Linked DNA regions of Homo sapiens: regions 1, 2 and 3 are each linked to region 4. The links come from fine-mapping of genetic effects on gene expression. A gene starts in region 4. Each other region holds a variant in brackets. All regions are shown on one strand. Distances are between the middles of the regions.

Region 1 (5,300 bases), 41 kb before region 4:
GGACGTGTCCTGGTCCCGGCCTTTGTGGGGGAGGGGTGGCTATGCCTGCGTCCATCATTCTGGCTGCCTTGGTCCCTCACCTTTCACCCTGCTCCTCCTTCACCCTCTGGTGCATGTCCAGTTATGCTGCACCTGCTGCTCTCCCTGGCACAGCTGAGAGCGCCTGCTCTGGCCCTGCGTGGCCCTGGCTTCCCGGGAGCCTGTGACACTTGTCTCCTCATCCCTGCTTTGTGTCGTTGGCTGTAAGCAGATGCCCCCTTCCCCGTTAGCCTCCTGCGAGGGGCTTTCCCTGTTGATTTGAATAATTTTTCTGCTGTGAAATTATGGAGAGAGGATTCTGGAAATCTTTCCCTTGTTGAAAGAACCAGTGAGGCTGCTCGATCTGGGGCCTTCTCTTGGGTGGGAAGTAGCTGGGTCAGGGTTTGGACTACGGAACAGCCGGAGCCAGGAGGCCTTGACGTGCCGCGGCTGGAGCCGCACCGAGGATGGGCTCCTGGTGAAGGCCTTTGCTCTGTGGCGGGTGGTCCCGGTCGTCCCAGCTTTGACTCGTCCTTGAGCACAGCCGCTTGTGCCCCCACCTGTCACCTCGTTGTTAGCCACATACCCAGGCCTCTGCTCCACTCACGCTGTTGTTGGTGCAGGAATCGCTGGCTGTCCTTTTGCAGACACTGCAGGGGCCTCCTTGGGGGTCCTGCAGGCGGCCACCACGTTTGTCTCATCGTCAGTTCGCCCTCCTCCTCATGGCCTGTGGGAGTACAGGGGCCTTGCAGTGCGCTCCGCCGGCCCTTCCAGGTCCCCAGCCCCTGCTTGGTCCTGCCCTCTGCTCCCAGCAGCCGGGAGATAGCCACGCCTCTGCTCACATTCGCAGACACCTCGCCGTCCCTCCTTTCTCACGAGTCTGAGCCTAAATCCATGTTTTGTGAGTTTCCTGAGTGCTCTGCCCTGACGGTCCTCACCTCCTCAGGGTTCCTGGGAGCGTCTGCTGCCAGTTGCCCCGGCAGGCACTGAGTTGGTTGCTGTGAGTCTGAAGGGCAGGGCTGCTGCCTTGACTATCCCAGCAGCCTGGTCATTGCAGCCCTGGGCACAGTGCTTATTGGCTGTTGATTACTGACTTACACCGTGAATATATGCAGAATGCTTAAAAAGAAAAAAAAAGGTGGAGGGGTGGCTCAGCACTCCATGCCCATGTGTAGGACTGGTCCTCTTTTGTCCTCTTTACCTGTGGCTGCGGCCACTCTGGGCATGTGAAGGAAGGGCCTGGGCTGGCCTGGAATCGCTGGACACGGCCTGAGAGACCATGGCATGATAGACCTGGTCCTGGTCGCCACAGGCACCGTCTTGGGCAAGGCCCTCATCGCAGGCCAGGGCCGTGAGCCTTCTAGTGGCTCGAGGGCAGCTGGTAGGCCAGTTTTCACGCACAAAGCCTGGTTTTCCTGTTAGCTTTTATTTTACTCATTTACTTATTTTTTTCAAGGCAGAGTCTTGGTCCGTCATCCAGGCTGGAGTGCAGTGGCGCCATCTTGGCTCACTGCAACCTCTGCAGCGAGTCACTGCAACCTCTGCAGCGAGTCACTGCAACCTCGGTTCAAGGTTCAAGTGACTGTCCTGCCTCAGCCTCCTCAGTAGCTGGGATTACAGGCACATGCCACCACACCTGGCTAATTTTTGTATTTTATGGAGAAACGGGGTTTCACCATGTTGGCCAGACTGGTGTGGAACTCCTGGGCTCAATTGATCCGCCCACCTCGGCCTCCCAAAGTGCTGAGATTAAAGGCGTGAGCCACTATGCCCAACCTAGTTGTAGTACCTTCTAACAAGGCTCTTGGGAATGTTTACAGCTTAATTAAAATTTTTTATTATAAATTACATTTACAAACTTGATATATTGATTTTCTTTCTACCTACACTACTTGAATTACTTGGCAGATAAAACAACGCAAGTACATAAAAACCCTGGTGGATCTAAAACATTAAAACTGATCAATATAACGATTCTCATACTTCTAAACATTTCCATACTGTTACAATTTGCAGTCTGCCAAATTTTCAGTTAAGTCTGACTTAAAAATCACACGTCTAAAATTACTCAGTTCCTCATGTCAAAATGGAATCACAGTAGGCCGAGGCGGGTGGATCACCTGAGCTCAGGAGTTCGAGACCAGCCTGGCCAACATGGCGAAACCCCGTCTCTACTAAAAATA[A/T]AAAAATTGGCCGGGCGTGGTGGTTCACACCTGTAACCCCCGATCCTTGGGAGGCTGAGGCACGCGAATACCTTGAACCTGGGAGGCGGAGGTTGCAGTGAGCCGAGATTGCGCCACTGCACTCCAGAGAGACTAAAAACAAAAAACAAAAAAACACTATCTGTAGATACACTGACATTACATGAAATAAGATACAGTTTCTGATTTTTTTCTTTTTTAAGTTACAATCTAATTTAAAAGTGTGTGTTCACCAGGGAGGCAGTGCAGGGGCTCACTGAGGCCTGTTAGGTGTGGCCCTCCCCTCCCTGGGCAGGTCAGATCTGAGCACCTTCAGCTGCAGGGCCACCAAGCTCCCTGTGCAGGTGGAGCCATGGGTGCCTGCACCGTAGCTGGGCAGGTCTCGGCAGCCCTCCTTGTCCCCGTGCTCGTATTTAAACTTGCAGCCAATCTCCTCTTCTCGGGGATGAGTGTGGGGGACACAGGCCTGGCCTGGCTGTGGATGGGCGCCTGCCAGGCGCAGAGGGGCCTTCTGCTCGGGCCTCAGGTGAGCCGCAGCCTCCTCCAAGGCTGCTGGAGCTCAGTGGTGGGAAAGTGGGTTGGACGTTTTCAGACTTTGGAATTCTTTGAAAGAAGGTACTGCTCATCCTTGCCTTTGTCCCCAGAGAACTTGTATAAGAACAGATGTTAGGGGACCTAGTTAGGCTCTTGGAGTGCCCCCACCCGCCGCCCCCCTCTGCTGGCCTGGCAGGGCGTGTCGTGTGCCCGGGGCAGTCGGCTTCTCTTCCTGCATGCCTGTCTCCTGTCTTTCTTGTATGGCCCTAGCAAGGGCCACACAGCAGACACCTTCTCATAGGTGCAGGACTCTTGGGAGAATGGGTTTACTCTTGTTTAACTCGTATCTTAGATCCTAGAACAGTTCAGCCCGTGGTAAGTGGTAGTTAAGTTCAGTTGAATTCAGGCTCAATTTTCAGGGAAATCATCAGCTTGACTCCCTTCCCTTGATTGTTTTTGCCTTACTCAGGGCTGTCTGGGGTCTTTGGGATGAAGTTTCAAGGATCTTTGCATAGACTCCCGAGCCTCGGCTGCTTGGAGGGGCACATATACCTCATACCAGTGGCAGCACTTCCCAAACTACCTTCCCAGAAGGCTCGATAGAAACAATTAAAACATAGTTTCCTTTCAGCAAAGAAACCTTCGCCTTCTTCAGTGGCTTGGTGTGAGGTGCAATGTTTGAAAACCCGGGAGTGAGGGTGGGGGAGACAAGCTCTCTGGGAAGGGGGCCCCACAGGCAGCACCTACCGCAGGAGCTCAGTGTGAGCCACTGTCGGCCTGTGGGTGTGTGTCGTGTGTCGCAGCCAGCTCAGTTGCTGTCAGGATACCACAGGCTGGGCAGCGTAAACCGCAGGTCTTCCTTTTCTTGGTTTTGGAAACTAGACATCTGAGATACCAGCAGGCCTGGTTCCTGGGGAGGCCCCCTTCCTGACTTACAGACGGCCGCCTCCCCGCTGTGACCTCACCTGGCCTTCCCTCATCTAAGGACACCAATCCTATAACCTTAAAGGTTCCATGTCTATCTGCTGTCACATTGGGGGTTAGGGCTTCTTATGAATTTTGGAGGGATGTGGGTCAGCCCATAACAGAATGCATCGCAGACTTGGGTGCCATCGGAGGCCTGCTTTGTGGTCCCCTCACTTGAGGAGGTTTGGGAAAGCTGTGAGCAGCACCCGGATGCTTTGGCCCTGCTCTCTCCTGTAGGTACCACATGGAATGCTTGGACCCCCCTCTCCAGGAGGTGCCGGTGGACGAGTGGTTCTGCCCGGAATGTGCTGCGCCTGGTGTTGTCCTTGCCGCTGGTAAGGACACTGCTCCCGTCCCAAGGCGCACATGGGCCTTCTCACTGTCCACTCTGCGGTCCCCGGGGTTAGGTTTGGCTGCTGTGTGGGGAGGACATCTAGGGCTGTCTCATGGGGGTTAGGGTTGGCTGCGGTGTCGGGAGGACATCTAGGGCTGTCTCGGGCTCGTCTTCTCGGGGATGTGTGTGGGGTCCATTGGCTGGGGGGTTCCGGTCCTCAGTGTTAGGAGCACCAGGCTCCATGAGCAGCCCTGGGTCCTGTGCACAGGTCAGCCCGAGCCAGGGCTGCTACTTGGCCGGCAGCCACAGGGGGAGCCGTTGGGGGAGGCGTGTGGCCTGTGAGTGTGGCACATCAGCCCTGGTGGTTCTTCCCAGATGCGGGTCCCGTGAGTGAGGAGGAGGTCTCCCTGCTCTTGGCTGATGTGGTGCCCACCACCAGCAGGCTTCGGCCTCGAGCAGGTAGGACCCGGGCGATAGCCAGGACACGGCAGAGTGAGAGAGTGAGAGCAACCGTGAACCGGAACCGGATCTCCACGGCCAGGAGGGTCCAGGTGGGTGGCCCAGCCCTGACGCCAGTCGTAGAACCCCAGCTGCCCAGAGTGATCTCGGCAGTCTGGGTGGGTGGGAGGGGCGTCGTCGGCACTGTGGGGTCCGCCCGGCCCCGGTGGCTCATGTTGTTCGGCCTGCTGAGGGGAGCAGATGAGTGCACCCCAGGGTGACCCCAGCGGCCCAAGGTGGGGCTGCCTCTGAGCACCTGGAGCCAGGTATTGAGGGGCAGGTGAAGCCTGGCCCTGGCGGGGTGGGGGCTCTAGGAAACCCCCCTTGTTCCCCAGGCCCCATGCCAGCACCGCTCCCTCTAGGCACCTGTGAGCACCTTCCTCTTGCACTGGACCTGGTGCTCGGTTTCAGGTGCTCCCTGCAGCCTCCGTCCTGACAGCAGCCTTTCCCTGGGCATTGGACAAGCAGGAGGGTCTGGGCTGTGGGCATGTGGTGTGTGCCCTTGGCAAGCCTAACGCTGAATTTGGAGTGGACTGAGAAGGCTGGGTGGGGAGGGGGCTGTCCCTGTCCAGTGCCCTGCCCAGTACCTGCGCCACCCCCGCCACAGTGACTGGTGCCCTCTCGTGTGCCCCTGGGATGCTGTCTGTCCCCCACCCGCCTTGCCCCCGTGGGAGTGCTTGGCAGCCTCTGGCAGGGGAGAGGAAGGCCGGGCCGTGGCTGCTGCAGTGGCGGGTGGGGAGGCTGTCCTG
Region 2 (8,132 bases), 53 kb before region 4:
GAGAGGGGTCACCCTCCTGGATGGGCCGTGGCCCTCGTGTGTCTCTCAGAGCCAGTGTCTCTAGGATTCAGGTGCGGGACGAGCAGGGCGTCTCTGCGGAGTTGCTGGGTCCACCAAGCACCAGGGGTGCAGACTGCCTTGAGCGGGGATCATGACCAGGTGTTTTCACCTTAGGGTGGCAGGTAGAAGAAAGGTTAATTACTAATTTGGCAAAACTACTTCTACAATCGCTGTTTCCAGGCAGTAGTAAGATTTGGCAGTTGACAGTTGGATGGAGTTGACATTCTTCACTGTTTTATAAGGCATCATCTTAGAATCTAGGGTTTTGCACTGTCTTGTCAGATGGGAAGTGAGGCCGTCCTGGTTTCTGAGCCCCGTTAGGGTTTGTTGTCCAGGGGTTTCCAGACAGCAGTGGCGCTGACAGCCACTTTCCCCCGTTGCTGTGGTACATGTGCAGCCCACAGTGGTGGTGGGAGCTGAGCTCCAATGCAAGGAGGCCCTGAACTCGAGGGCAGCTCTGGCCCCCTACTTCCTGGCCTCTTGTGCGATGCGCTTTCCTCTGATCATGGATGGAGGTTGGACTTGGTGGGAAACAGAGTGCTGCAGGGCCGGCTTCACTGCCTCGCTGGATTCCTGACTCACTCTCCTAGGACAGGCCTTTCCTCCGAGAGTCGCCTGGGAAACAAGGTCAATAGCACTGATGAGAAATGAACCACGTGCACGTATCTCCTTTCTTATCTGGGACCAAAGTTTGAGGCCCTGGTGTGGAAGGAGGAGCGTGTCCAACTAGATTTCCCAAGGCTTTGTACGGGATCCTGTGTGGTTTCACAGTGACCTTGCAGAGTGGGAAGGGCAGGGGTCCCGGCTGACGGGTCAGGGCCTTGAGCAAGTGGTCTTGGGAGCCGAGGGGTGGGCCTGGCCTCTGTGCCTTCTGCCTCCTCAGCTCTGGGTACCACTGGGGACTCAGCAGCACCCTGGTGGATGGGGTTGGGGTGCGGTCAGAGGAGCCTCCAGGCATCCCAACAGTGGCCAGCCTTGGCAGGGAGAGCACCCTACGTGTCACTGAGGCCCCTCTTGTGCCCAGCTGATAAAGCCCGGCTCTGCCTCAGCTCAGGATGAGGCCGTTTTGTTCGTATATGGTGTTGCGATTCCTCAGGAGCATTGCAGTTTTTTGAGATGGAGTTTTGCTCTTATTGCGCAGGCTGGAGTGCAGTGGCGCGATCTCGGCTCACTGCAACCTCCGCCTCTCAGGTGCAAGCGATTCTCCTGCCTCAGCTTCCCGAGTAGCTGGGATTACAGGCGCCCGCCACCACGCCTGGCTAATTTTTGTATTTTTAGTAGAGACGGGGTTTCATCATGCTGGCCAGGCTGGTCTCAAACTCCCGACCTCAGGTGATCCGCCTGCCTCGGCCTCTCAAAGTGCTGGGGTTACAGGCGTGAGCAGCTATGCCTGGCCTAATTTTATATTTTTAGTAGAGATGGGGTTTCTCCATGTTGGTCAGGCTGGTCTCAAACTCCCGACCTCAGGTGATCCGCCCGCCTCAGCCTCCCAAAGTGCTGGGATTACAGGCGTGACCAATTTTTTTTTTTTTTTTAGTTAAAAACAAATTTTTATTTTCTGGCCGGGTACAGTGGCCAGCTAGGATCTGGCTTTATGGGTAGCTCTGTAAATGTGAATCATGTGTAAGGCTTACTGGTGAGGGTTGTTCTGTGGGTGATATCTTAGGGCTCACCCTTCACGTGCTGTGGCGGTGGATGTGACACTGGGACACTGGGGTGTGGCCTGTGGGGATACTGCTGAGAGTTGTTCTGTGGGTGATATCTCAGGGCTCACTCTTCACGTGCTGTGGCGGTGGATGTGACACGGGGATGTGGCCTGTGGGGAGAGGTCATAACTCTTCAGAGGGTTCTTTGCAGCCTGGGACAGTTTGGAAGTTGCTTGGCTCTTCTTTCTTTCAGAGCTGAGCTCAATGTGCAGCAATGGATGACGACAGCCTGGATGAGCTTGTGGCCCGGAGCCCAGGGCCGGATGGACACCCACAGGTCGGCCCTGCGGACCCGGCAGGTGACTTTGGTGAGCTGCCTAGCGCCGGGTAGGGGCGTCCCCAGGAGGAGCAGGGTGCCTGGTGTTTCCCTTTGGAGGTCGTCTGTGTGTGTCACTTGTCAACTTTCAGTCTAAAAAAATTATGCTTTGATTTTAAATTGCGGAAGTAGTGTATTGTTTTGTTTTATTTTTAATGCAAACAACACAAATGTTGAACGAAAGGATGTTCCCTTTCCTTGCTTGTGCCCCCACCTTGCCGGCCCTGGGGAAGCCGTTAGCCGTTTGGCAGGTGCTCCTGACGCCTCTATGCCTGTGCAAAGCAACCTGCTCTCTGCTGCATGGTCTTGACGCCGCCCTGCGGCCTGTGTCTCACCCTGGTGTCTAGAAGAAAGCAGCGTGGGCAGCAGTGGGGACTCTGGGGACGACAGTGACAGCGAGCATGGAGATGGCACAGACGGAGAAGACGAGGGGGCGTCTGAGGAGGAAGACCTGGAAGACAGATCTGGTGAGACAGCTGGTGTTCACGCCGGCTCCTGTGTTTCCTCTTGTCGTGATGGGGACAGCCTTTTATAACACATCCTCCGTGAGAGTGCTGTCACCACAGCTGGCCATGTCCCTGCGGTCACCTACGGTGAGGCCTTATATTCAGCTGTGGTGACGGCTCACTTTATTTGTAGTACTTCATTTCTTTTTTTTTTTTTTTTTTGAGACAGGGTGTCGCTCTGTTGCCCAGGCTGGAGTACAGTGGTGCCATCTCAGCTCACTGCAACTTCTGCCTCCCGGGTTCAAGTGATTCTCCTGGCTCAGCCTCGTGAGTAGCTGGGATTACAGGCACGCACCATGACACTTGGCTAATTACTTTTTGTATCTTTAGTAGAGACGGGGTTTCACCATCTGGTCTGGAACTCTTCCTGACCTCAAGTGAGCCGCTGTGCCTGGCCTGTAGTCCTCCTTTTTTTTCTTTTTTGAGACGGAGTCTCGCTCTGTCGCCCAGGCTGAGTGCAGTGGCGCGATCTCGGCTCACTGCAAGCTCTGCCTCCTGGGTTCACACCATTCTCCTGCCTCAGCCTCCCGAGTAGCTGGGACTACAGGCGCCCGCCACCAAGCCTGGCTAATTTTTTGTATTTTTAGTAGAGATGGGGTTTCACCGCGTTAGCCAGGATGGTCTCGATCTCCTGACCTCGTGATCCGCCCACCTCAGCCTCCCAAAGTGCTGGGATTACAGGCGTGAGCCACCGCGCCCGGCCTTTTTTCAAGACGAGCCTGGCCAGCATAGTGAAACCCCCTCTCTACTACAAATACAAAAAATTAGCCGGGTGTGGTGGTAGACGCCTGTAATCCCAGCTACTCGGAAGGCTGAGGCAGGAGAATGGTGTGAACCTAGGAGGTGGAGGTTGCAGTGAGCCGAGATTGTGCCATTGTACTCCAGCCTGAGCGACAGAGCGAGACTCCATCTCAAAGGAAGAAAAAGAAATTCTGGCTGTCTGGGCGCGGTGGCTCACGCCTGTAATCCCAGCACTTTGGGAGGCCGAGGCGGGCGGATCAGGAGGTCAGGAGATCGAGACCATTGTGGCTAACA[T/C]GGTGAAACCCCGTCTCTACTAAAAATAGAAAAATTAGCCAGTCGTGTTGGCACGCGCCTGTAATCCCAGCTACTTGGGAGGCTGAGGCAGGAGAATTGCTGGAACCCGGGAGTCGGAGGTTGCAGTGAGCCAAGATCGCCACTGCACTCCAGCCTGGGCAACAGAGCGAGACTCTGTCTCAAAAAAAACAAACAAAAAAACCCCACCAAAATTAGCCGGGCGTGGTGGTGCGTGCCTGTAATCCCCACTACTCAGGAGGCTGAGGTTGGAGGATCGCTTGAGCCCAAGAGGTCGAGGCTACAGCGAGCTGAGATCACGCCACCACACTCCAGCCTGGGCCACAGAGCGAGACTCTGTCTCAAAAAGATAAAAAATTCTCAGCTCACTTACAATTGGCTGATGGTTGTGCCCTTGAACTTCTTTTGAGAGAACAATGTTCCAAAGGGCAGGTCTGCGCTGGGTGTGGTGGCCCAGGCCCATGGTCTCAGCTACGCAGGAGGCTGAGGTGGGAGGACCCTTGAGCCCAGGAAGTTGAGGCTGCATTCCAGCCTGGGTGTTGGAGCGAGACGTTATCTCAAACAAAACAAAGGGGAGACAAGTCCGTGGGGTGCGCTGGTGGTACCTCCTTCCTTGTCCCCTGTTGCCATCACCCTCGGTGGTGCACAGCCTGTGAGGCCACCAAGGAGGTGGCCCTGCCCCGGCCCTGCTGTGGTTGCTTCCTCAGAGGGAGGCCGAGCTCAGGCTCAGAACTTTGCCTTTCCACTACTTTCCTTCTGACATCACCCTTGGGCTGGAAAATCCATGGTCCTCAAGTGGCTACTGTGATCTGTGTGTAGCAGTCTTTCTGCATAGCCCTGTGGTTATCAGGGTTAGAATGTTCCAGAAAGGTAACACTCCTGTTTGAGACTGTTGGTAAGGGAATGGCACTCATGGCCTGAGCCAATGTGTGTTGGCCGTGTCCTTCCAGAGTTCGATGTTTAGCTCTGCACGTGCTCTGCGGGTCTGCTTGGGTCTGCAGGTCCTGAGGGGCTTCCCTGCTCCCTCCCAGCATCAGGTTAGGGCTCTGGTTCATCTGTAGTAGGTCTCCGCACCAGTTCTGGCGTTGCCAGGGCTGAAAGTGTGGGCCGTCAGGGCCGCCAGGTGACTCTGTCCTTGAGATCCTGAGGGCACATTGGATGCCAGAGACTCTGGGTTGGGGGCTGGAGTGAAGGTGGCGGGAGCCTCAGCAGGGCCCCCACCGTGTCTGCGCTCACCTTCTAGCAGCAAACAGTGCGCCAAGCAGCAGCTGGGGGACAGGGTCATAGACACTGAGAGCTGTGGGCGTCCAGGGGAGGGGCAGGCTCCATGGACCTGGGGTGGGGAGAGGCTTCTGGAGAATCCAAGCTGCCACCTGAGGGGCAGGAGGAGGTGGCTGGGCAGAGGCGGCAGGCCAGGACGGGGGAGCTGTGAAGAGACAGGTTTATGGAGACCTGGAGCCCCTGAGGGCTGAGCGCCCCGAAGGAAGGGGATGGGAAGGCACTGGAGAGGTGTTGGTATAGCCACTGTGAACACTTCTTTTTATTTCTCCAGGACCTTTTTTTTTTTTTTTTTTTTTTTTTGAGACCGAGTTTCACTCTTGTTGCCCAGGCTGGAGTGTAGTGGCGCAATCTCGGCTCACTGCAGCCTCTGCCTCCCGGGTTCAAGCGATTCTCCTGCCTCAGCCTCTCGAGTAGCTCGGATTACAGGCGCGCACCACCATGCCTGGGTAATTTTTGTATTGTTATTCGAGATGGGGTTTCACCATGTTGGCCAGGCTGGTCTTGAACTCCTGACCTCAGGTGATCCACCCGCCTTGGCCTCCCAAAGTGCTGGGATGACAGGCATGAGCCACCGCGCCTGGCCAGGACTGTTTTTTAAACATGAAGAAGTAGCCAGTGGGTCCCTAACTGGTGGGAAACATGTTGAGGAGGGAGTTATTCCACGAGCAACACCCACGTTGCTGGGGCTTGGGAGCTTTCGTTCTCATTGCTTTTCCCACCCTGGTGTTTCCTGCTGGAAATCACTTGTTACACTGCCCTTTCCAGCTTGAGGTAGTAGCCCTTTCCAGCTTGAGGTAGTAGCCCTTTCCAGCTTGAGGTAGTAGCCCTTTCCAGCTTGAGGTAGTAGCCCTTTCCAGCTTGAGGTAGTAGCCCTTTCCAGCTTGAGGTAGTAGCCCTTTCCAGCTTGAGGTAGTAGCCCTTTCCAGCTTGAGGTAGTAGCCCTTTCCAGCTTGAGGTAGTAGCCCTTTCCAGCTTGAGGTAGTAGCCCTTTCCAGCTTGAGGTAGTAGCCCTTTCCAGCTTGAGGTAGTAGCCCTTTCCAGCTTGAGGTAGTAGCTCTTTCCAGCTTGAGGTAGTAGCCCTTTCCAGCTTGAGGTAGTAGCCCTTTCCAGCTTGAGGTAGTAGCCCTTTCCAGCTTGAGGTAGTAGCCCTTTCCAGCTTGAGGTAGTAGCCCTTTCCAGCTTGAGGTAGTAGCCCTTTCCAGCTTGAGGTAGTAGCTCTTCAACTCTTTTTTTTTTTTTTTTTTGAGGTCGAGTCTCGCTCTGTTGCCCAGGCTGGAGTGCAGCAGCACGATCTCAGTTCACTGCAAGCTCTGCGTCCCAGGTTCACGCCATTCTCCTGCCTCAGCCTCCCAAGTAGCTGGGACTATAGGCACCTGCCACCGCGTCCAGCTAATTTTTTGTATATTTATTTATTTATTTATTTTTGAGACGGAGTCTTGCTCTGTTGCCCAGGCTGGAGTGCAATCGTGCAGTCTAGGCTCACTGCAACCTCTGCTTCCCAGGTTCAAGCGATTCTCCTGTCTCAGCCTCCCAAGTAGCTGGGATTACAGGCACACGCCACCACACCCGGCTATTTTTGTATTTTTTGTAGAGACGGGGTTTCACCATGTTGGCCAGGCTGGTCTCAAACCCCTGACCTCAGGTGATCCACCTGCCTCAGCCTCCCAAAGTACTAGGATTACAGGCTTGAGCCACCACGCCTGGCAATTTTTTGTACTTTTAGTAGAGACGGGGTTTCACTGTTAGCCAGGATGGTCTCTATCTCCTGACCTCGTGATCTGCCCACCTCAGCCTCCCAAAGATGCCGGGATTACAGGCGTGAGCCACCACGCCCGGCCAGTAGCTCTTCAACTCTTAACATGAAAGATGGGAACTTAAAACTCTTCTGCTGCCTCCCTCGCAGCTCTCACTTCTCCCAGCCTCTTTAACAGTGTAAATATTTCTGTTCTGGGTGTGTCTTTCCCTTTGCCAGATAACAGAGGGTCCTGGCAGTGATGCCCCAGTGCTGGCAGGGTCCTGCCCACATGCGTGGAACCGGGAGGGTTTGGAGGGTTTCGGGCCTAGGAGGAACCTGCCACCCACACCGAGTCTGCTCCTCTTCCCATGTGAACTTGTGTTCTGTTTACTTTAGCGTTGTTTCATTGGAGTTTGGTACAAAGAAGATAGCAGTGCACGTATGGGCTCTGCCGTGTTGAACTCGGAGCATCTCCCTGCTCCCTGCTGGTCAAGGTGTAGCCTCAGAACCACTCCGAATTGGCCAGAACGGTTGTGGTTAGTGGCCCAGTTAGGAGTCTGTGCTCTGCCTCCCACAGGGAGGAGGAACAGGCAACCTCAGAAGGAAGTCCCTTCCGCGGGCAGAGGGTTTGTGGTCCTCATGCTTTGAGAAGGGGGCGTTGGAAATGGGGGCTGCTGTCAGGGGGCTGCTGCACTGAGGGGCTCGCTTGGAGGCTCTGAAATGAACCTGATGGTCTCTGGGACCTGTGCTAGGCCCCAGGGCTGCCCTGCCTCTCGAGGTCTGCCTCAGCCCCAGGCTCAGCTTAGAGGAGCTGGTCTGGCACTCAGGACGCTCAGCTTCCCGCCCCTCGGTGCAGGGCACCCGAGGCTTCAGGTTAGGTGCAGGGCAGGGCTCCCAGGGTTGTGGATGTGCTGAGCGTGGACGTGGAGGTAAGTGGCAGGAGCCTGCGGGGAGGTGGGCTGTGCATTGCCGACCTGGTGTCCTGAGCGCAGCCTGGGCCCGCTTGCCTCCAGTGCCGCGGTTCACGCTGCCCATCCTGCTTGCACCAGCTGGCATGTTTCCTCTCCAGGTTCCGAGGATTCTGAAGACGACGGGGAGACATTGCTGGAGGTAGCGGGTACTCAGGGGAAACTGGAAGCCGCTGGCTCTTTCAATTCTGATGATGATGCAGAGAGCTGCCCAATCTGTCTCAACGCATTCAGAGACCAGGCCGTGGGGACGCCGGAGAACTGTGCCCATTACTTCTGCCTGGACTGCATTGTCGAATGGTCCAAGGTGAGTTCACCTCTGGTTGGGTGCTTCCTCCCTTCAGGATGGCCTCCCTGTTTATAGGTGACCCAGCCTGTGTTCAGCCTCTTGTGAGGTTCTAGTTGTCTGCTCTGCGGCTGACCCTGGGGCCACAGGATTGAGTCTGGCTTGGTCTTTGCTTTGTGAGCACCATGGCTCTTGGGGGTGTGGGTGAGCTCATGTGAGGC
Region 3 (8,132 bases), 33 kb after region 4:
AGAGGAGGAGGACAGGGTGTCACACTCAGAGCCTCTGAGTCCTGGCTCAGCTATTCAAGTAATGGCTTTATGAATGACACGTCCGATACACAGCTTTAGAGAAAGGGAACACATCGCTTCTAACACTTCCTGACATTTCTTCTAACTCCTGACATTTTCAGATGCACGGGATGTTCACTGCAACAGCTGCTTCCAGCTGAGAAAGGGGCCGCCCTTTCTAACGTTTTAAAAGGCTTGGCTGTCTACCAAACGGGATTTTAAGGATAAAGGGATTTCATGCCACATTTCTCTCATAGAAATACATAAAATTACTAATAAAATTCAAAGCCCAGCCTTTCAGGGCAGGGACCCAGCTGACGCAGCAGCATCAGACACTCTGGCTGCCAAATGAGCAGGGGAGAGAGGCAGCCAGGTGACATAGCAGGGACAGGTGACGTAGCAGGGAGATGGAGCCAGGAAGGCTTCTCCTGGAGGCAGCCCCAGGCCACCAGACATGGGCGGCCACACCGTGGTAGCAGGCTGCAGTCACCCTGGCCAGAGCTGACAAAGTGGCTGGAAAATGAGGGGAGAAACCCTAGAAAGGAGCAAGCACAGAGAGAGGACACTCCCATCCAGCACATAAACGCTCCCCACGTCCTTGTTTGACCCTGAGCTGATGACACAGCATGTGGGGAAGACTCAGCAGAAATGGACGGCTGAAGACCGAGAACACTGAGCAGAGACTGCGGCTGCTGCTCACCACCTGAAAGTCTGGAGTTTGAACCTTCACAAGTTAGAGGCTTAAAAACACCACGGACTTCCCAGGAACATCCAGAAAACCACAGCTTCGCAGATCCAAGACTAAGGATGTGTCAGGCAGAAGAAAAAGCCAGACAGACCTGCCCTAACAGCATCAACACTGATCCTCTTCAGGGTGATCCATAAGAATTCAGCCTGCGAGAACAAAGCCCAACACTCTTCAGGGGAAGACAACAGAATCCAACAAAATTCAGAGTCTCTACCATATAAACTCTACCATATAAACAGTATATAAACTAAAATTCCAACACACAATCAGGAAGTACTGGACGTGTGAAGAAGGGATAACAGGATCCATGATGAAGGGAAAAAGTAGCCAAAAGAAGCAGATCCTGAGGCTGGGCACGGTGGCTCACACCTGTAATCCCAGGCGGGCAGATCACGAGGTTAGGAGATTGTGAACATCCTGGCTAACATGGTGAAACCTCCTCTCTACCAAAAATACAGAAAATTAGCCAGGAGTGGTGGCATGCACCTGTAGTCCCAGCTACTCGGGAGGCTGAGGCAGGAGAATCACTTGAACCCGGGAGGCAGAGGTTGCAGTGAGCTGAGATCGTGCCACTGCACTCCAACCCTGGGCGACAGAGCAAGACTCCGTCTCAAAACAAAACAAAACAACAAAGTATTAGCCAGGTGTGGTGGTGCACACTTGTAGTCCCATCTACTTGGAAGGCTGAGGCAAGAGATCGCTTGAACCTGGGAGGTAGAGCTTGCAGTGAGCTGAGATCGTGTCACTGCACTCTAGCCTGGAGAGCAAGACTCTGTCTCCAAAAAAAAAAAAAAAAAAAAAAAAGAAAAAAAGAAATAGTTATAGCCAGGAGCAGTGGTTCATGCTGGTAATCCCAGTACTTTAGGAGGCCAAGGAAGGTGGGTTGCTTGAGTCCAGGAGTTCAAGACCAGCCTGAGAAACATAGTGAAACCCCATCTATACAAAACAAACAAAAAAATAGCTGGGCATGGTGGTACACATGTGTAGTCCCAGCTACTCAGAAGGCTGAGGTAAGAGGATCGCTTGAGCCAAGGAGTTTGCGGCCAGCCTGGGCATCATGGTGAAACCCCAGCTAAAAATTGGCCGGGAGTAGTGGCCAGTGCCGGTAGTCCTAGCTACTCTGGAGGCTAAGGGAAGATCACCTGAGCCCAGGAACTCAAGGCTGCATTGAGATGTGACCACAACACTGCTTCTTAGCCTCGGTGACAGACAGTGACCCTGTCTCAAAAAAGAAAGAAAAAAGAAGGAAGGAAGGGAGGGATGGAGGGAGGGAGGGAGGAAGGAAGGAAGGAAGGAGAGAGGGAGGGAGGGAGGGAAGGAGGGAAGGAGGAAAAGAGGAAAGGAAGGAAGGAAGGAAGGAAGGCAGGTAGGCAGGCTGGCCAGAAGATGATGGAAAGACATCTTTAAACTGGTGAATGATAAAAAGTGACAACCCAGGTAGGTCATGCCTATAATCCCAGCACTTTGGGAGGCCGAGGCAGGTGAATCACCTGAGGTCGGTCAGGTGTTCAAGACCGGTCTGGCCAACATGGCAAAACCCTGTCTCTAATAAAAAAATACAAAAAATTAGCTGGGCATGGTGGTGTGTGCCTGTAATTCCAGCTACTCAGGAGGCTGAGGCAGGAGAATCGCTTGAACCAGGGAGTCGGAGGTTGCAGCGAACCGAGATGGCATCACTGCACTCCAGCCTGGTGACAGAGTGAGACTTTGTCTCAAAAAATAATAAATAAATAAATAGGCCGGCGTGTTAGCTCATGCCTGTAATCCCAGCACTTTGGGAGGCCCAGGCGGGTGGATCACTTGAGCCCAGGAGTTCAACACCAGCCTGAGCAACATGGCGAAACCCCGTCTCTACCAAAAATACAAAAATTAGCTGGGTGTGGTGGCGCACGCCGATAGTCCCAGCTACTCAGGAGGCTGAGGCAGGAGAATTGCTTAAACCTGGGAAATGGAGGTTGCAGTGAGCGGAGATTGTGCCACTGCACTCCAGCCTGGAAAACAAGAGCGAGACTCTGTCTCAAAAAAATATATATATGTAAGTGACAACCCAGAATTCCATGTCACTCAAAAACGTCCCTCAAAAATAAAGGTGAAAGAGGGACATTACAGACAAAAACAGAGAATTCATGGCCAACAGACCTATATGAAAAGAAAAGCTGAAAGTACATCTTTAGGTTGAAGAAAAACAAGATTTGGACCACACTATGAACCACCTTGACCTAATGACATTACAGAAAACGAAAACCAATGACTGAATAAAACTCTTTTCAAGTGTATATGCAATATTCACCACGAAAAGTATATACATGATCATAAAACACATCTTTTTGTTTTTTTGAGACAGGGTCTCATTCTGTTGCCCAGGCTGGAGCACAGTGGCGTGATCACAGCTCGCTGCAACCTCTACCCCTGGGCTCCAGTGATCCGGCTAATGAAGGAAACATTTTGGCCGGGCACAGTGGTTCATGCCTGTAATCCCAGCACTTTGGGAAGCTGAGGTGGGTGGATGGCTTGAGCTCAGGAGTTTGAGATCAGCCTGGCAACACAGTGAGACCCTCTCTCTATGAAAAATACAAAAATTAGCCAAGCATGGTGGCACATGCCCATAGTCCCAGCTACTTGGGGGGCTGAGGCAAGAGGATTGCTTGAGCCTGGGAACTTGAGGCTGCAGTGAGCCGAGGTCACACCTCTGTACTCCAGCCTGGGTGACAAAGTGAAACCCTTTAAAAAAAAAGTTTTTTGTTTTTTTTTAGACAGAGTCTCGCTCTGTAGCCCAGGCTGGACTGCAGTGGTGCAATCTCGGCTCACTGCAAGCTCTGCCTCCTGGATTCATGCCATTCTCCTGCCTCAGCCTCCTGAGCAGCTGGGACTATAGGTGCCTGCCACCATGCCTGGCTAATGTTTTGTATTTTTAGTAGAGACGGGGTTTTACTGTGTTAGCCAGGATGGTCTCGACCTCCTGACCTTGTGATCTGCCCGCCTCGGCCTCCCAAACTGCTGGGATTACAGGCGTAAGCCACTGCACCCGACCCTTTTTTTTTTTTTTTTTTTTGTACAGACAGGGTCTCACAATGTCCAGGCTTGTCTCAAACTCCTGGCCTCAAGACCTTGGCCTCCCAAAGTGCTGGGATTACAGGTGTGAGTCACCATGCCTGGCCGAAATAAATCGTAATCAATTTAAAAGAACTGAAATCAGAGTATATTTTCTAAGCATATTGGAGTTGAATTAGAAATCAGTTGTGGTAGGAAATCTAGAAAATCAACTGGGTGCAGTACCTCACACCTGTCATCTCAGCACTTTGGGAGGCCGAGGTGGGCAGATCACCTGAGGTCAGGAGCTCAAGACCAGCCTGACCTAAATGGTGAAACCCTGTCTCTACTGAAAATACAAAATTAGCTGGGCGTGGTGGCGCATGCCTGTAATCTCAGCTACTTGAGAGGCTGAAGCAGGAGACTCTCTTGAACCTGGGAGGTGGAGGTTATGGCGAGCCGAGATTGTGCCATTGGATTCCAGCCTGGGCAACAAGAGCGAAACTTGTCTCAAAAAAAAAAGAGGCCAGGTGCGGTGGCTCATGCCTGTAATCCCAGCACTTTGGGAGGCTGAGGCAGGAGGATCACCTGAGGTCAGGAGTTCAAGACCAGCCTGACAAACATGGTGAAACCTCGTCTCTACTTAAAACACAAAAATTAGCTGGGCATGGTGGCATGTGCCTGTAATCCCAGCTATTCGGGAGGCTGAGGCAGGAGAATCACTTAAACCTGGGAGGCGAAGGCTACAGTGAGCCGAGATTGCATCAGTGTACTCCAGCCTGGGTGACAGTGTGAGACTGTCTCAAAAAAAAAAAAAAAAAAAAAAAAAGAAACCCCATCTTTACAAAAAATACAAAAATTAGCCAGGCATGGTGGCGCAAGGCTGCAGTGAACCAAGATCATGCCACTGCACTCCAGCCTGAGTGACAGAGTGAGATGCTGCCTCAAAAGAGAAAA[GA/G]AAAAAAAAAAAATGAGAGCAGTGACTGTCCATGGGGCAGGGGACCGATGGAAGGGGACATGAGTGGTGCTTCTGCAGGGATTGAAATGGTCTCATGACCAGGTTCATGCATTCATCAAAACTCACTACATTTTATGGTGGAGATTGAGGCACTTTGCTGTACATACAGTTTACCTCAATTACCAAAAAAGACCAAAAGGACACACAGTAAGTGTTCACGGTCATTATCTTTGGGTGCAGGGTTATAGATTTTTTTGCCTTTAAACTTTCTTTTCCTCTATAAATTTCAGCATTAAGTAGCTGTTTGTTTGGAAGTATACTTTTTTTTTTTTTTTTTTAAAGTATTTTTTTGGCCAGGTGCGGTGGCTCACACCTGTAATCCCAACACTTTGGGAGGCCAAGGCAAGTAGATCACTTGAGGCCTGGAGTTTAAGACCAGCCTCGCCAACATGGCGAAACCTCTTCTCTCCTAAAATACCAAAAAATAGCTGGGCGTGGTTGCACATACCTGTAATCCCAGCTATCTGGGAAGCTGAGGCACAAGAATCGCTTGAACCTGGGAGATGGAGGCTGCAGTGAGCCGAGATCACACCACTGCACTCTAGCCTGGGTGACACAGCAAGACCATCTCAAAATATATATATATCTTTTTCTTTATTTTTTTCCTTTTTAATTTCTTTTTTCTTTTTGTTTTTGTTTTTTTTTTTTTTTTTTGAGACGAGGTCTCACTCTGTTGCCCAGGCTGGAGTACAGTGGTGTGATCACGGCTCACTGCAACATCAACCTCCTAGGCTCAAGCAATCCTCACGTTTCAGCCTCTTGACTGGCATGTCACCACACCTGGCTAATGTTTTTTTTTTTTTTTGAGACAGAGTCTCACTTTGTCACCCAGGCTGGAGTGCAGTGGCGCGATCTCGGCTCACTGCAATCTCCACCTCCCGGGTTCACGCCATTCTCCTGCCTCAGCCTCCCAAGGAGCTGGGACTACAGGCGCCCGCCACCACGCCCGGCTAATTTTTTGTATTTTTAGTAGAGATGGGGTTTCACCATGTTAGCCAGGATGGTCTCGATCTCCTGACCTCGTGATCCGCCCGCCTCGGCCTCCCAAAGTGCTGGGATTACAGGCGTGAGCCACCGCGCCTGGACTTTTTGTTTTTTGAGACAGAGTCTTGCTCTGTCGCCAGACTGGAGTGCAGTGGCCCGATCTCAGCTCACTGCAACCTCTGCCTCCTGGGTTCAAGTGAGTCTCCTGCCTCAGCCTCCTAAGTAGCTGAGACTACAGGTGCCCACCACCACACCCAGCTAATTTTTATATTTTTTTGTAGAGACGGGGTTTCACCATGTTGTCCAAGCTGGTCTCAAACTCCTGGGCTCAAAAGATCCTCCCACCTCAGCCTCTCAAAGCACTGAGATTACAAGTGTGATCCACTGTGCCCAGTGAAAAAGTATTTTAAAATTATCTTTGTCTTCAGGAGTAGAAACACTTTTCTTCCTTGAAAGAAAATTAATGCTGGGTCCAGTGGCTCACGCCTGTAATCTCAGCACTTTGGGAGGCTGAGGCAGGAGGATCTCTTGAGCCCAGGAGTTTGAGACCACCTTGGGCAACACGGCAAGACCCAGTCTCTACAAAAAATAAAAAATAAAAAAATAAATTAGGCAAGCGTGGTGGCATGCACCCGTATTTCCAGGAGTTTGAGCCTACAATGAGCCATGAGCCTAGGCAACAGAGTGAGACCTTACCTCTTAAAAAAAAAAAAAAAAAAAAAAAGAAACACAAAAAACACTAATCACATATTGATCAGTCATTTAAAAAATTAAGAATCTAAAAAGCTCTTCTGCTCGCCTGTCACCATTAAGACATGCCTTTCCTCCCGCTTTGCCATCTGCCATGATGGTGAGACCTCCCCAGCCATGTGGAGCTGCAGTGTCACTGTCATTACCTCAATAGTCATTGAGTGGTGTTGCTGGTGTTTGGAGCTGTGGCATACCTAATGACCATGCATTCCTCCTATGGAAGGCTTCTGGACAATCACCACTACAGGTCCTGGGGAAACTACACAAACCCCTAACATAGAATACGGCCTGGGATGAGAATCACTGTTTGTTATGTGCTTGTCTGGTAGAATCCGTAACAAACCCCTAACATCGAATACGACCTGGGTTGAGAATCACTGTTCATTATGTGCTTGTCTAGTAGAATCCGTAACAAACCCCTAACATCGAATACGACCTGGGTTGAGAATCACCGTTCATTATGTGCTTGTCTAGTAGAATCCGTAACAAACCCCTAACATTGAATACGGCCTGGGTTGAGAATCACCGTTCATTATGTGCTTGTCTAGTAGAATCCGTAACAAACCCCTAACATTGAATACGGCCTGGGATGATAATCACTGTTCGTTATGTGCTTGTCTAGTAGAATCTATAACAAGTACCTGATGTGCACTGAATGACAGAAAAATTTAAAAATTAAAAAATAAATAGGCCGGGCAAGGTGGCTCATGCCTGTAATCCCAGCACTTTGGGAGACTGAGGTGGGTGAATCACCTGAGGTCAGGGGTTCAAGACCAGCCTGGCTAACATAGTGAAACCCCGTCTCTACTAAAAATACAAAAAATCAGCCAGGTGTGGTAGCACATGCCTGTAATCCCAGCTATTCCGGAGGCTGAGGCAGGAGAATCACTTGAACCCGGGAGGAGGAAGCTGCAGTGAGCTGAGATTGTGCCATTGCACTCCAGCCTGAGCGACACAGCAAGACTCCGTCTCAAAAAAAAAAATTTTTTTTAAATAGATAAATAAATAAATACGTATAATCCCAGCACTTTAAGACGCTCAGGCGGGTAGATCACTTGAGGTCAGGAGTTTAAGACCAGCCTGGCCAACATGGTGAAACCCTGTCTGTACTAAAAATACAAAAATTAGCCAGGCATGGCAGCAGGCGCCTGTAGTCCCAGCTACTTGGGAGGCTGAGGCAGGATAATTGCTTGATCCCAGGAAGTGGAGGTTGCAGTTAGCCAAGATCGTGCCACTGCACTCCAGCCTGGGTGATGGAGCGAGACTCCGTCTCAAAAAATAAAATAAAGTAAAATAAAGCAGCAGCTGAAAAAAAAATAATGATAATAAAATAAATACATAAATAAAAAGTTCTTCTATAAAAAGTAGAAGCTGGGCATGGTGGCTCACATCTGCAATCCCAGTACTTTAAGAGGCTGAGGCGGGTGGATCACCTGAGCTCAGGAGTGTGAGATCAGCCTGGGCAACATGGTAAAACCCCGTCTCTACCAAAAATACAGAAAATTAGCCAGGTGTGGTGGTGGGTGCCTGTAGTCCCAGCTACTTGGGAGGCTGAGGCACAAG
Region 4 (8,132 bases):
CTCCTGGATTCACGTAATTCTCGTGTCTCAGCCTCCTGAGTAGCTGGGACTGTAGGCGTGCGCCACCATGCCCAGCTAATTTTAATTTTTGTATTTTTAGTGGAGATGGGATTTCAACATGTTGGGCATCTGGTCTTGAACTCCTGATCTCAAGTGATCCACCCGCCTCGGCCTTCCGAAGTGCTGGGATTACAGGCATGAGTCACGGCGCCCGGCCTGATGAAGTTTGTTTCTATTCCTAGTTTATTGAGTCTTATTATCATGAAAGGGTTTTGAATTTTATGAAATGGTTTTTTCTGCATCAGTTGGGATGATCGCGTGGGTTTTTCTTCATTCTGTTAATGTGGTGTATGACATTGAATTTCGTCTGTTCGTTCACCCTTGCATTCCTGGGATAAATCCCACTGGGTTATGGTACATAATCCTTTTAAAAATGCTGTTTTTCGGCCAGGCACTGGCTCACGCCTGTAACCCCAGCACTTTGGGAGGCCAAAGTGGGCGGATCATGAGGTCAGGAGTTTGAGACCAGTCTGGCCAACAGAGTGAAACCCTGTCTCTACTAAAAATACCAAAATTAGCTGGGCATGGTGGCACGTGCCTGTAGTCCCAGCTGTTCAGGAGGCTGAGGCAGGAGAATAGCGTGAACCCGGGAGGCAGAGGTTGTGGTGAGCCGAGATCACACCACTGCACTCCAGCCTGGGTGACAGAGTGAGACTCCATCTCAAAAAAAAAAAAAAAATGCTGCTTTTCTGGCAGGCAGCACTTTAAAAGGGACTGTGTTTGCTCATATTTTTTCGAGAACTTTTGCATCTATATTCATAAAGGATACTCATTTGGAATTTTCTTTTTGTGATATCATTACTGTTGAGTTTTGAGAATTATTAATCTTTTTTGTATACAAGCCATTTGCTGGATATATGATTGCTAATTTTTAAAAAAAATTTGTTTCTTTTTTAATTTTAATTTATTATTTATTTATTTATTTATTTATTTATTTATTTATTTTGAGACGGAGTCTCGCTCTGTCGCCCACGCTGGAGTGCAGTGGTGCGATCTTGGCTCACTGCAAGCTCTGCCTCCCGGGTTCACGCCATTCCCTTGCCTCAGCCTCCCGAGTAGCTGGGACTACAGGTGCCCGCCACCACGCCTGGCTAATTTTTTGTATTTTTAGTAGAGACAGGGTTTCACTGTGTTAGCCAGGATGGTCTCGATTTCCTGACTTCGTGATCTGCCTGCCTCGGCCTCCCAAAGTGCTGGGATTACAGGCATGAGCCACCTCGCCCAGCCTATTTATTTATTTTTTGACACAGAGTCTTGCTCTGTTTCCCAGGCCAGAGTGCAATGACGTGATCTCCGCTCACCGCAACCTCTGCCTCCTGGGTTCAAGTGATTCTCCTTCCTCAGCCTGCCAAGCAGCTGGGATTACAGGTGCACACCACCACGCCCGGCTTTTTTTTTTTGAGACGGAGTCTTGCTCTGTCACCCAGGCTGGAGCGCAGTGGCACAATCTTGGCTCACTGCAATCTCCGCCTCCCGGGTTCATGCCATTCTCCTGCCTCAGCCTCCTCAGTAGCTGGGATTACAGGTGCCCGCCACCACGCCCGGCTGATTTTTTTGTATTTTTTAGTAGAGACAGGGTTTCACCGTGTTAGCCAGGATGGTCTCGATCTCCTGACCCTGTGATCTGCCTGCCTCGGCCTCCCAAAGTGCTGGGATTACAGGCGTGAGTCACCACGCCTGGCCAATTATTTGTATTTTTAGTAGAGATGGGGTTTCACTATGTTGGCCAGGCTGGTCTTGAACTCCTGACCTGGTGATCCACCTGCCTCGGCCTCCCAACGTGCTGGGATTACAGGTGTGAGCCACTGCGCCTGGCGTAGACAACCCAATTTTTAACAAAAGCAAAGATTTTTAACAGGCACATTCCAGAAGAGGGCATGCTGACAGTTAACAGGCACATGGGAAAAGTGGTCAAACATGAGTAGCCATCAGGAAAATCAACGACGTCCTACTACACTAAAATGGAAGAAACATTGCCAGACGTGGCCATTTGCAAATGTCGTTTCCTGGTCTGTGTCTTTTGATTCTCCTGACAGCATATTTGAGTTAATTTTTTAATGTGTAAGGTATGAGTGGAGGTCCTCATTAAAAATTGTTTAGGCTGGCTGTATGGCTCATGCCTGTAATCACAGCACTTTGAGAGGCTGAAGTGGGAGGATCATTTGAGCCCAGGAGTTTGAGACCGGCTGGGCTAACATGGCGAGACCCCGTCTCTACAAAAAATAAGAAAATTAGCTGGGTGTGGCACCACGCATCTGTAGTCTCAGTTGTACAGGAGGCTGAGGCCAGAGGATCACTTGAGCCCAGGAGATTGAGGCTGCAGTGAGCCATGATTGCAGTAAGATGTGATCACATCCAGTTACATTTGATTTTCAGATAAACAACAGAAGTTTAGTGGAGGCTGGGGGCAGTGGCTCACAGCTGTAATCCCAGCACTTTAGGAAGCTGAGGCAGGTGGATCACCTGAGGTCAGGAGTTCGAGACCAGCCTGGCCAATATGATGAAACCGTGTCTCTACTAAAAATACAAAAAAATTAGCCGGGCGTGGTGGCGGGCGCCTATAATCCCAGCTACTCAGAAGGCTGAGGCAGGAGAATCGCTTGAACCCGGGAGACGGAGGTTGCAGTGAGCCAAGATTGTGCTGCTGCACTCCAGCCTGGGTGATAAGAGTGAAACTCCATCTCAAAAAAAAAAAAAAAAAAAAAACAAATTGGGGTTGTCTGTCTTTTCTCATTGTTTCCATTGTTTCTGGATCTGTGTGTCAGAGATGTGTGCTGCACACATCCTTTCTCCGCCTAGCTTGGTTTTCACTCTTGGTGGTCGCAGACATCTTGGGGGCTACTTGAAGGAACTCTAAGCCGACCAGAGGCTGGGCTGGACTCGCCGTTTGGCGCCCAGCCGGAGACCCCAGGGCCACCCTCCCCGGTTCCATCCTGGGAGAGAAGAAACTTCCACTGTCCCAGTCTCTCCTGTGGTGACTTCTTTTGCTCAAGGGTTCACAAGGGCAGCAGACTGATCTGCACAAGAGGGACTGAGCCTGGCTGCGGCCGCACCTGATGCCTGTGCACACCTGTCCCTGGTGGTCTCTCCTGTGGTGACTTCTTTTGCTCAAGGGTTCACAAGGGCAGCAGACTGATCTGCACAAGAGGGACTGAGCCTGGCTGCGGCCGCACCTGATGCCTGTGCACACCTGTCCCTGGTGCAGGCCCTTCCCCCGCAGCCCCGTGACCTTGTCCTGTGAGGCTCACGGTGCCTGCTCCTTCTCAGAGTCCTCATTTCTCCCTTTAACGCACGCCCTGTCAGCGCCTCCGTCTAGCCCGTGTCCTCCAGACCTTCGAGGTCAGGGGCCTCAATTCCTGGCACAGCCCCTCCACTCCAGGCCTCCCAGAAACAGACTAGAGCATCAGGATGTGCGCCGCCTGGGGTCCCACAGAGTGGTGCCCCCTTTTAGTGTCTTCTAGGCCCCTTAGTGACAGACTACAGAAAATACCTCTCAGGTCACAGGTCACCCCTCTTTGGTGAAGAGTCCATAGAATTCTCTGCTGCGCTTTGCAAGCACTTTCTCTTCTGCACGTTTGGAACCTACCCCGGCCTGTCGTGTCTTTCTCCTGGCCTCCTCGCGAGCCGAACCTACTGTCCGGTCCCGGGACCCCCTGCCCAGGGTCAGAGGGGCGCCTACCTAGCTCACGGTCTTGGGCCGGAGGGAATGGAGGAGGGAGCGGGGTCGACCGCTCAGCTGTCCGCCCAGTTTCGGAGGCGGCCACGCGAGGATCAACTGTGCAACGGGTGGGGCCGCGGCTGACCGTGGTGGTCGCGGGGGCTGAGGGCCAGAGGCTGCGGGGGGGGGGCGGCGGGATGAGCTAGGCGTCGGCGGTTGAGTCGGGCGCGGAGTCGGGGGCAGGGGGAGCGGGCGTGGAGGGTGCGCACGAGGTCGAGGCGAGTCCGCGGGGGAGGCGGGCAGAGCCTGAGCTCAGGTCTTTCTGCGTCTGGCGGAACGGGCCTGGGAGGGAGGTTTTGCCAGATACCAGGTGGACTAGGGTGAGCGCCCGAGGGCCGGGACGCACGCACGGGCCGGGTAGGATGGCGCTGGCGTCGATGCCCGCGCGCTTCAGGGCCTGGTCTGGCCGCCCCTCCATCCTTGTCGGTTTCTCGGGTCGCGGACCCCGCGCGGCGCCGGGCGATGCTGGCCTGCCCGTGGCCACCACCTCGCTTCATTCCCGTCTCTTTGGGCCGCCGCATTCGTCCACGTGCCCGTCTCTCCCTGCGCAAAATTCCAAGATGAGCAAATACTGGGCTCACGGTGGAGCGCCGCGGGGGCCCCCCTGAGCCGGGGCGGGTCGGGGGCGGGACCAGGGTCCGGCCGGGGCGTGCCCGAGGGGAGGGACTCCCCGGCTTGCGACCCGGCGTTGTCCGCGGTGCTCAGCGCCCGCCCGGGCGCGCCATGGGGAACCGCAGCACCGCGGACGCGGACGGGCTGCTGGCTGGGCGCGGGCCGGCCGCGGGGGCATCTGCGGGGGCATCTGCGGGGCTGGCTGGGCAGGGCGCGGCGGCGCTGGTGGGGGGCGTGCTGCTCATCGGCGCGGTGCTCGCGGGGAACTCGCTCGTGTGCGTGAGCGTGGCCACCGAGCGCGCCCTGCAGACGCCCACCAACTCCTTCATCGTGAGCCTGGCGGCCGCCGACCTCCTCCTCGCTCTCCTGGTGCTGCCGCTCTTCGTCTACTCCGAGGTGAGCCGCGTCCGGCCGCACGAGCATCCTCACCTGCTCCTCGGTTCCCCGTCCCTGTCCCTACGGAGGACCCGGCGCGACCCGGCCCCTTTCTGGTGCGGAGCTTCCAGCTGGGGCGGCGGCAGGGGCGCTGCGCCTTGTCCCTCGGCGATACACCCACCGCCGCCACCTCGCGACCTTCCACCCGCTGCGCTGTCTGTCCCCCGACCCTCGTTCCTCTTCTCCTTCCCCGTCTGTCTTGGCGTCTGTTATCCAGGAGATGCCCGTCCTTCTATCCAGGGACCCCGGAAACAGGCGACTTTGTCAAGCCCAGTCCCCTCCGTAGCTGGATTTCACCTCCAGGGCAGCCAGCTGGACAGACAGGCAGATGCAGGCTCAGCCCCCTGGCTGCCGTGGGACACACACACACACACACTGCCACAGCCACTGCCCACCACACACACCTAGTGCAGATGCTGGCACACCCCCAGAAGGAGGCTCACAGCTCGCAGGGGAGACCTGGGCTGGACAAAACCCAGGGGAGGGGAGGGTGTGTGGGGACCAGGCCCCTGCTGAGAACCCTGGGGGGAAGCCTGAGGGGGAATTGGGGGATGGAGCCCACACTCCACACCAGGTCTGGCCCTCGAGTGGGTCGGCCTTGGTGCCAGCCCCTCTGCGGCCAGAGAAAAGCAGCTTAGGGCTGAGCTGGAGACGCGGTGTCCCCGACTGTGGGGGAGGGGGACTCGAGGTTTCCCCTTGATGGACACAGTGAATCCAGGCGGCTGGGGCAGAGACCAGCAGCACGGGACACGCGTGACCTGTGCTCCTTTCGAGCCGCAGACGTCACAGTGACGACGTTTAAGCTCCTAATCTCCCCAAATCGGCGGGAAGGATTAGAGGGGCTGCCTGCTCCTTTGCCCTTGGAGAGAGTCACTCCACGTGGAGTCCTACGCTGGGCACTGGGCACGGTCTTCATATTTTTAATTATAATTTATCTTCAAGACAATTATGATGTGGATACTATCATCACCCTTGTCTTACAGATGAAGAAACAGAAATGAATTAACGTGCCCGAGTCTCCCACAGAGAACTTAGCCAACAGAGCAGCCAGCTTCGCTTCTAGGCCCAGCGGGGACCCTGCCTACCCCAGGCTGGGGAGGGGCTCCCTTTGAGCCCGATGATATCAGGCCCGCCCCCAGGGAATTCCCCAGGCCGTTCTCATGTTTGTAACAAAAGGGAGACCAAGGCCAGAAGCCGTGATTCACGCCTGTAATCCCAGGACTTTGGGAGGCAAAGGCAGGAGGATAGTTTGAGACCAGCCTGGGAAACATACCAGGCCTGGTCTCTACAAAAAATTTTAAAATATCAGCCGGGGGTGGTGGCTGCGGCTGTTGTCCCAGCTATTCGGGGGAGCTGAGGCGGCAGAATCGCTTAAACCTGGGAGGCGGAGGTTGCAGTGAGTTGAGATCTCACCACTGCACTCCAGCCTGGGCAACAAGAGCGAAACTCCGTCTCAAAAAACAAAAAGAAAAACAAATCAGCCGGGGGTGGTGGCGCGCGGCTGTAATCCCAGCTACTCTGGAGACTGAGGTGGGAGGATCGCTTGAGCTCAGGAATTCCAGGCTACAGTGAGCCATGATGGAGCCACAGCACTCCAGCCGCGGTGACACAGCGAGACCCTAACTCAAAACAAAGGGAGATCTGCGTGGGGAAGGGGTGTTTCCCTGCCCGGTCCTCTGGCCTCTGGCTCACAGCCGGGCCCCCTTCTCCGTATTCAGCCCTGGAACTACCCATAAGAGTGGGGGCGGGTCACAAGGGCCCGCGGTGGCTGGGAAACCTCAGGGCCTGTGGTGTCGCCGCGCAGGTCCAGGGTGGCGCGTGGCTGCTGAGCCCCCGCCTGTGCGACGCCCTCATGGCCATGGACGTCATGCTGTGCACCGCCTCCATCTTCAACCTGTGCGCCATCAGCGTGGACAGGTGCGCCGCCCTCCCCGCCCGCGCCCCGGCGCCCCCGCGCCCCGCCCGCCGCCCTCACCGCGGCCTGTGCGCTGTCCGGCGCCCCCTCGGCGCTCCCCGCAGGTTCGTGGCCGTGGCCGTGCCGCTGCGCTACAACCGGCAGGGTGGGAGCCGCCGGCAGCTGCTGCTCATCGGCGCCACGTGGCTGCTGTCCGCGGCGGTGGCGGCGCCCGTACTGTGCGGCCTCAACGACGTGCGCGGCCGCGACCCCGCCGTGTGCCGCCTGGAGGACCGCGACTACGTGGTCTACTCGTCCGTGTGCTCCTTCTTCCTACCCTGCCCGCTCATGCTGCTGCTCTACTGGGCCACGTTCCGCGGCCTGCAGCGCTGGGAGGTGGCACGTCGCGCCAAGCTGCACGGCCGCGCGCCCCGCCGACCCAGCGGCCCTGGCCCGCCTTCCCCCACGCCACCCGCGCCCCGCCTCCCCCAGGACCCCTGCGGCCCCGACTGTGCGCCCCCCGCGCCCGGCCTTCCCCGGGGTCCCTGCGGCCCCGACTGTGCGCCCGCCGCGCCCAGCCTCCCCCAGGACCCCTGCGGCCCCGACTGTGCGCCCCCCGCGCCCGGCCTCCCCCCGGACCCCTGCGGCTCCAACTGTGCTCCCCCCGACGCCGTCAGAGCCGCCGCGCTCCCACCCCAGACTCCACCGCAGACCCGCAGGAGGCGGCGTGCCAAGATCACCGGCCGGGAGCGCAAGGCCATGAGGGTCCTGCCGGTGGTGGTCGGTGGGTTCCTGTCCTGAGGGGCGGGGAGGAGAGGAGGGGGGGGGTACGAGGCCGGCTGGGCGGGGGGCGCTAACGCGGCTCTCGGCGCCCCCAGGGGCCTTCCTGCTGTGCTGGACGCCCTTCTTCGTGGTGCACATCACGCAGGCGCTGTGTCCTGCCTGCTCCGTGCCCCCGCGGCTGGTCAGCGCCGTCACCTGGCTGGGCTACGTCAACAGCGCCCTCAACCCCGTCATCTACACTGTCTTCAACGCCGAGTTCCGCAACGTCTTCCGCAAGGCCCTGCGTGCCTGCTGCTGAGCCGGGCACCCCCGGACGCCCCCCGGCCTGATGGCCAGGCCTCAGGGACCAAGGAGATGGGGAGGGCGCTTTTGTACGTTAATTAAACAAATTCCTTCCCAAACTCAGCTGTGAAGGCTCCTGGGGGCTGATGGGGAGTGGGGAAGAGGGGTTTCTGCCTCAGTGGCCCCAGGCCCCCCAGCCAGTTAACCTCTTTCTCCCCGCCAAGGAAGCCCACAGAGCAGACCCCACCAAGCCGGCCGCCTGCTCAGGGTGAGGGGGGAAGGGGCCCCCGAGAGCCACTCAGTTCCGCAGCGCTGGGGCCCAGCTTCCCCTCTCTGCAGGGGAGAGGA

The links. PIP is the estimated chance that this variant, and not a neighbour inherited with it, causes the effect. A credible set is the group of variants that fine-mapping cannot tell apart.
Region 1: its variant is the best candidate, but not a certain one, in a credible set for the expression of DRD4 in prefrontal cortex (GTEx, PIP 0.79).
Region 2: its variant is the best candidate, but not a certain one, in a credible set for the expression of DRD4 in subcutaneous fat (GTEx, PIP 0.57).
Region 3: its variant is the best candidate, but not a certain one, in a credible set for the expression of DRD4 in whole blood (INTERVAL, PIP 0.50).

What each region holds. Positions count from the first base shown.
Region 1 is chr11:592,967-598,266 of GRCh38, forward strand. PHRF1 (PHD and ring finger domains 1) reads left to right here. Exons shown (of 18, transcript NM_001286581.2): 7 at 3,957-4,054; 8 at 4,429-4,604. Among named protein-coding and RNA genes, the nearest start is that of PHRF1, 19 kb to the left of the region's middle. RefSeq lists an enhancer at 2,535-3,034. The variant A/T (reference allele first, on the strand shown) is at 2,202.
Region 2 is chr11:579,533-587,664 of GRCh38, forward strand. PHRF1 (PHD and ring finger domains 1) reads left to right here. Exons shown (of 18, transcript NM_001286581.2): 2 at 1,960-2,074; 3 at 2,430-2,549; 4 at 7,727-7,932. The coding sequence starts at 1,981. Among named protein-coding and RNA genes, the nearest start is that of PHRF1, 7.1 kb to the left of the region's middle. RefSeq lists enhancers at 4,231-4,732, 4,733-5,232. The variant T/C (reference allele first, on the strand shown) is at 3,624.
Region 3 is chr11:665,307-673,438 of GRCh38, forward strand. All of the region lies in intron 10 of DEAF1 (DEAF1 transcription factor), which reads right to left. Among named protein-coding and RNA genes, the nearest start is that of DEAF1, 26 kb to the right of the region's middle. The variant GA/G (reference allele first, on the strand shown) is at 4,775.
Region 4 is chr11:632,804-640,935 of GRCh38, forward strand. DRD4 (dopamine receptor D4) reads left to right here and starts at 4,466. Exons shown (of 4, transcript NM_000797.4): 1 at 4,466-4,786; 2 at 6,630-6,742; 3 at 6,845-7,503; 4 at 7,598-7,903. The coding sequence starts at 4,502. The coding sequence ends at 7,800. RefSeq lists enhancers at 2,748-3,283, 3,284-3,817, 4,353-4,886, 4,887-5,421, 5,422-5,955 and 4 more.